2 separate regions of the Homo sapiens genome follow, and region 2 is linked to region 1. A link means that fine-mapping ties the variant in region 1 to the plasma level of a protein whose gene starts in the linked region. Region 1 holds a variant in brackets. A gene starts in the other region. All regions are shown on their reverse strands.

Region 1 (2,905 bases):
TTACAGGTGTCCACCACCATGCCCAGCTAATTTTGTGTTTTTAGCAGAGACAGAGTTTCACCATGTTGCCCAGGCTGGTCTCAAACTCCTGACCTCAGGTGATCTGCCCACCTCAGCCTCCCAAAGCGCTGGGACTACTGGCATGAGCCCCCACACCCAGCCTAAATTTAAATTTGATTCTGAAGTTTCTTTCTTGGAGTTTCATTCTTGGCACACCAGACTTACCATTCTCAGATCCTTGGTTCCTGGCAAGTTTGAATGAACACAACAGACCGTGTCTATGCTGGTCATCAAGACAGCTCCTGAGGGCTCAGCCATGGTTGGCAGCCTACCTGCATGACTGACTGACTCCGATACTTTGGTAGAGCACTTTGAAGATATAAAAGTGGTTGCAAAGGCTCTGTAAATGTGGACTCCTGTTTGTGATTCATGCTCCTTTGAGGTATCATGTACTTCCATGTTTTACATTTATTAAAAAACAAGAAAAGGGGACATGCTCTTTAAACTTATTCTTGGACTGATCTAGTGATAAAGTCACCTATCGGCTAAATGTGCATGCAAATGAACAGGTAGGTGTGGGTTATGGAGTCTCTAATCAATAGTGGAATTACAGTCATGTGCTACATAATAACATTTCTGGTCAAAGATGAGCCACATATATAACAGCGATTCCATAAGATTATAATCCTGTACTTTCACTGTACCTTTTCCATGTTTAGATACACAAATACCATGTGTTACAACTGCCTACAGCATTCAGTGCAGTAACATGCTGTACAGGTTTGTAGCCTAGGAGCAATAGGCTCTACCTATGCCATATAGCCTAGGTATGTAGTGACTACACCATGTAGGGTTGTCTAAGTACACTCTATGATGTTTGCACAACAATGACATTGCCTAAGGATGCATTTCTCAGAACATATCCTCATTGTTAAGAGATGCACGACTGTACATGAATTTGGAAAAATAGTCCAAAGTGAACAAATGCACCCAACAAAAGGCTAGTTGAAATGATATTAAATTTTATAAGTTTAATATAGGCTTCTCTTTTTTTTAGACAGAGCCTCACTCGGTTGCCCAGACTGGAGTGCAGTGGCAGAATCTCAGTTCACTGCAACCTCTGCCCACGGGTTCAAGAGAGCTTCCTGCCTCAGCCTCCCGAGTAGCTGAGATTACAGGTGTGTGCCACCATGCCCAGCTAGTTTTTGTATTTTTAGTAGAGATGGGGTTTCACCATGTTGCC[C/T]GTGCTGGTCTCAAACTCCTGACCTCAAATGATCTGCCTGCCTCGGCCTCTCAAAGTGCTGCGATTACAGGCGTGAGCCACCGTGCCCAGCCTAAGATAGGCTTCTGATATGGTTTGAATGTTTGTCCCTTCCATATCTCATGTTGAAATGTGATTCCCAATGTTGGAGGTGGGACCTGGTGGGAGGTGACTGGATTTTGGAGGTGGATCCATCACAAGTGGCTTAGCACCATTCCCTTGGTGATAAGTGAGTTATTGCTTGTGTTCACTAGAGATTGGGTTAAGAGTGTGGCAGCTCCCCACCCATACTCTTGCTCTCAATTTCATCAAGTGACCTGCTGCTTCCACTCTGCTTTCGCCATGAGTAAAAGCTCCCCGAGACCTCACCAGAAAACTGAGCAGATGCTGGGGCCATGCTTCCTATACAGCCTGCAGAATCGTGAGCCAATTAAACCTCTTTTCTTTATAAATCATCCGGCCTCAGGTATTTCTTTATAGGAACACAAGAACCTAATACAGCTTCTTCTTAAAACAGAAAAGGATACATTCAGAAAGCATTATTTAAATCACTGGGATCTGAGGTAACTTGATAACTTATTTAATGACCTTGGCAATAGTGTCAATAAGCAAGTATTTTGTAAATTCACAAAATTGGTTCTACCTTCTTCTGTTGGTTATTGAAATTTTAACTTAAAGATTTGATTTTTGAAAGAAACAAAGAAATTAGGCCATTAGTTCTTATTCAGCTTCCTAATTTTTCCCTTAATTCTGAAGTGAAGAAAAATGGATCCTTCCATGAAAATTCTACCTTTCTTCTAACCTCTCTTCACTAAGATTTAGGCTAATGATGTTGGCTAAAGTGCTACTTTGCCAAAGTCTCCTATCTATCTCTTTCCCTCAGTCTTTGGAAGGCATGATGTTCAGTCTTTTTTTATTAATCCTAAGAGCCATCTAATTGCTGGCTCAAATTTGCACCCATAAATCTAATTTGTTTTTACCGGAATGAAGATTAAAATTTGTTGAGTAGGCCTAGATCAGCTTTCCTTCCACTGTTATCATTTCCACATACTTCTGATATTGTCTATCCCAACTGCTCCTTTTCTTATTCTTATTTCAGAGTTCTGGTGTGGAGGTTGGGGAAATGAAATTAACATTAGTCTCTTGGTATCCGTGGAGAACTGAACCCAACACCTCCTCAGATACCCGTATCTATGGATGATCAAGTCCCCTATACAAAATGGTGTAGTATTTGCATGTAACCTATGTATATCCTCCTGTATACTTTAATTAATCTCTAGATTACTTATAATAACCAATACAATGTAAATGCTATGTAAATGATTATTCTGCATTTTTATATTTCAATGCTCTACACAGAGAAACTTCTCTAGTAACAAACTATGATCCCCAGAAATGGTCCCTGAAAGTATAGTCTCCTGTTGTTGTTGTTTGTAGAGATGTGGTCTTGCCATGTTACCCAGGCTGATCTAAAACTCCTGAGCACAAGCAATCCTCCCACCTTGGCCTCTCAAAGTTCTGGGATTACAGGCATAAGCCAGTGAGCCCAGCCTGTATTTTGTTTTTAATCTGTGTTCTGTTTTATTGTTTTTGTTTTGAGATGGGGTCTCGCTGTTGCCTAGGCTGGAGTGCAGTGGCACGATC
Region 2 (2,905 bases), not on the chromosome of region 1:
AGGGGTGGCCCCGCTGGGCAACAGACCTCTACCCAAATCCAGGCCCCTATTTGGCACTCCCTGGTGGAGGCGCGCCAGCAGATGTGGACCCCTTTTCTGAGGCCAGGCTGCTGGGGTCAGAGTGAGGCAAGAGCACCTCCCCCTCCCTAGAGCCTTAGTTCAAGAGGCCAGAAGACCCAGGGAGAAGCCGGCGTTTTGGGAGAAGGGGAGCTGCAGAGCTCCCCACCCAAGCAGGTCTGATTTGATTCTTCCCTCAGCTATGGACCCACAATCAATAGGGCTGGGGAAGACATGGGGTGGGGGAAGATCAGCGCTGCCGGGATCCTTTCAATCATCAGGAACAGCAACAGGTTTGCAGGGTCAGGCTGGGGACCCTCGCCCATTAACTCTTTCTTCTCCCTGTTTCTTTCTCTTAGGTGAGGGGAAACTGAGTTCCAGGGTAGGCTCCAGAGTGAAGAGGGAAGAAACATGATTCTCAAGGCCCAGGTCTGGACAAGTGTGAACACCTTGGGCCTGCGAATTCAGCCCCCTCCTTCCTTTCTCTGGTCAAAGGCTAGACTTGCAGGAGCTTGCGTTTGAAGGGACAGCCCAGAAGGCATCGTCTGCACTCCCCATACAGGTACTTCTGGGTCTGTGGGACTGGCGCAGGGTTCTTCTCCCAAAGCTGCCAGCACTGAGGCTGAGGCAGTGTCAGGCCGGCGGCAGCGGCAGTGGTGCAATCGTTCTGGGAAGCGATAGAGGCCGGCCTGAATTCTCTGTGGCAAGGGAGGGGAGCCCAAGTGGGAGGCCCCTTGGGGACACCGAGGACCAGGTCCGCTACTGCTCCTCCCCCAGGAGGTCCCCTAGGGGCTACATTGGCTGGCAGGGGCTGAGCAGCGGTGAGCCTGGCTGGCTTCGACCCGGGGCGACTCCGGGCATCCGGGACAGCTTCTCCTCGCTGCCACCTCGGCCAGTCAGACCCCGAGACACCTGTCACTACCCCCTCAGCCTTCCCAAGCCAGGAGCCTGGGAGTCCGGCTCTGGCCTACCTCCGGCAGCGCTCCTAGGCGCAGCTCCCGGGCTGGCGGCGCCGGGGCCCGCCCCCTAGGGCTGCGGCGCGCGGGGCGGGGGCTGGGGGCTGCGCGGGGCGGGGCGGGCCCGGGCGCTCCGGGCCCCCTCCCCCGCCCCCCTGACGTCAGCCCCCGGCAGCCTCGAGCTGCTCACTTGGCTCTCGCCCTCCGGCCGGGAAGCATGGGGCTTCCCAGGCTGGTCTGCGCCTTCTTGCTCGCCGCCTGCTGCTGCTGTCCTCGCGTCGCGGGTGAGTTCGCTCGCAGGGGGGCCGCGCCCCGGCTAGGGGTCTGCGGTGGAGCGTGCCAGGGAGCAGAGCCAGCGGCGCGGCGGGGTCGGGGCGTTGCGTCTGGGAGGACGAGCCTCCTCCCTGGGTCCCCGATCCCCGGGCGCCTTGCGCGCGAGCAACTCTTCTTTGCAGCCAGTTTGCAGCCGGGATTCTAGAGTATCCCGGGAGCAGCACTCGGAAGGCGGGGAGGAGGCTGCTTCTGGGAACGAGAAGGGGTGGAGCTCAGCCTTTCGGGGTGCTGGGGGGTGGGTGGTCCCTGAGGTGCTCACTCTGGGGGCCCGCAATTGAAGCCGGGCAGGAGGCGCAGCTGGGGCGCATCCTCAAAGCCTGAATTCCGCGCCCGCCTGTTGCTGGAAAAGGCAGCTTCCTTCGCTGGAGGGGGTGCGCCGACCCACCCCTTCCCCCTTCTGCCTGGGCATCACGCCAGGCTGGAGGTGAGCGAGAGCGGGAGGTTCGGCGGCTCCCGCCCGAGCTGGGCGTTGGCAGGGGTTGCGGGGCGGTGTGGGTCGCCTCGCGCCTCCCCGAGTGATGGGATCATAGGGGACAGAGATGAGGGATGGAGGATTCCCATACTGGAAGCGCCCGCTGGCTTATTTTGGGGACCACATTCAGGTGGGAAGTGCGCCCGGGCACCTCGGAGCGTTTCTCCGGATCCGCCTGGTAGCAGGGCGCTCTCGGGTCCACGCTGCCCTTGTATGGCCCGCAGCGGTGTCGCGTGTTTCTCTTGGCTCCCATTCCGCCGTCCCAGCCGCTGTCCGGCTGGGGAAGGGGAGGGCTAGGCAATACCCAGCTCGCTGGCCTCATGCCCAGTGCCAACCATGTCCCTGGGGTATTCCAGGCTACTGCCTCCCAGGCTGACTTTATTTCTGGGGAAAGGGCTAAATCGGGCTCCACAGTTGCAGCCGGTCCAGCTCCACCCTGCCCTGCTCTTCTAGCTCTGGGAGGAGTCAGGGGTCTGAGGCTCTGGGTTGGAGACCCCACCTTCCACCTGCCCTCCTTGTCCGAGAGCCAAGGTAACAACCCAGGCATCCCAGAGCCCAGGCAGATGGTGTCGAGTGACATCACCTCCTCACAGGGCTGGCAGCACGCTGGCACCACTGACGTCACTCCTGCCCACTGCCTGGCCCTTGCCCTGACCCCTGGGGGAGACTCTGACCTCTCCATCCTTACCAGCTACCTAGGGTGGGGTCCGCGGGTGTGTGCGGAGTGTTCATGGAGGTGCTGCTGAGGGAGCATGAGACCGGAACTTCCGCCAGAGTTAGCCCGCTGGGGAGTGAGGGCAGGGATTTTGGAGGGCAGAGGATAGAGCAGTGGTGTCTTCCCCTGGCGGTGGTGACACAAAAGGGCCTGTGTGCCCCAGCCTGGCACATGCTTTGCATTCCCACACTCTGAGCTCACCCGGAGAGGAGGGGGCCTGGAAGGAAAGGGGCCTTCCTCTTGGCCCCGAGCCTAGGTTGCCCCTTTCTGCCCCTCTACCAGCCTCAGCTGGAGCTGTTCGGTGCTCAGTCTCTGCTCAATCTCTGCTTGGCTCCAAGGACCTGGGATCTCCTGGACGGGGAGAGGGCTGGC

Alleles and levels. Positions count from the first base shown, and alleles are read on the strand shown. Strength reflects both the effect of a copy and how common the allele is.
For the plasma level of the protein whose gene starts at base 1,202 in region 2, allele T in region 1 goes with a higher level than allele C (weak association).

What was found. A credible set is the group of variants that fine-mapping cannot tell apart. PIP is the chance, under the fine-mapping model, that this variant and not a neighbour inherited with it causes the effect. The UK Biobank Pharma Proteomics Project read protein levels with antibody pairs (Olink). The fine-mapping took linkage between variants from a reference panel, not from the people measured, so its PIPs are less certain.
Region 2: MCAM starts here. The variant in region 1 is the best candidate, but not a certain one, in a credible set for the plasma level of the MCAM protein (UK Biobank, PIP 0.61).

The regions. Positions count from the first base shown.
Region 1 is chr6:111,196,435-111,199,339 of GRCh38, reverse strand. The region is part of intron 3 of SLC16A10 (solute carrier family 16 member 10); the gene reads right to left. LOC124901377 (a long non-coding RNA gene) reads left to right here and starts at 982. Exons shown (of 2, transcript XR_007059707.1): 1 at 982-1,178. The variant C/T (reference allele first, on the strand shown) is at 1,244.
Region 2 is chr11:119,315,427-119,318,331 of GRCh38, reverse strand. It overlaps MCAM (melanoma cell adhesion molecule), which reads left to right and starts at 1,202. Exons shown (of 16, transcript NM_006500.3): 1 at 1,202-1,297. The coding sequence starts at 1,231. RefSeq lists a silencer at 864-923 and an enhancer at 2,516-2,905.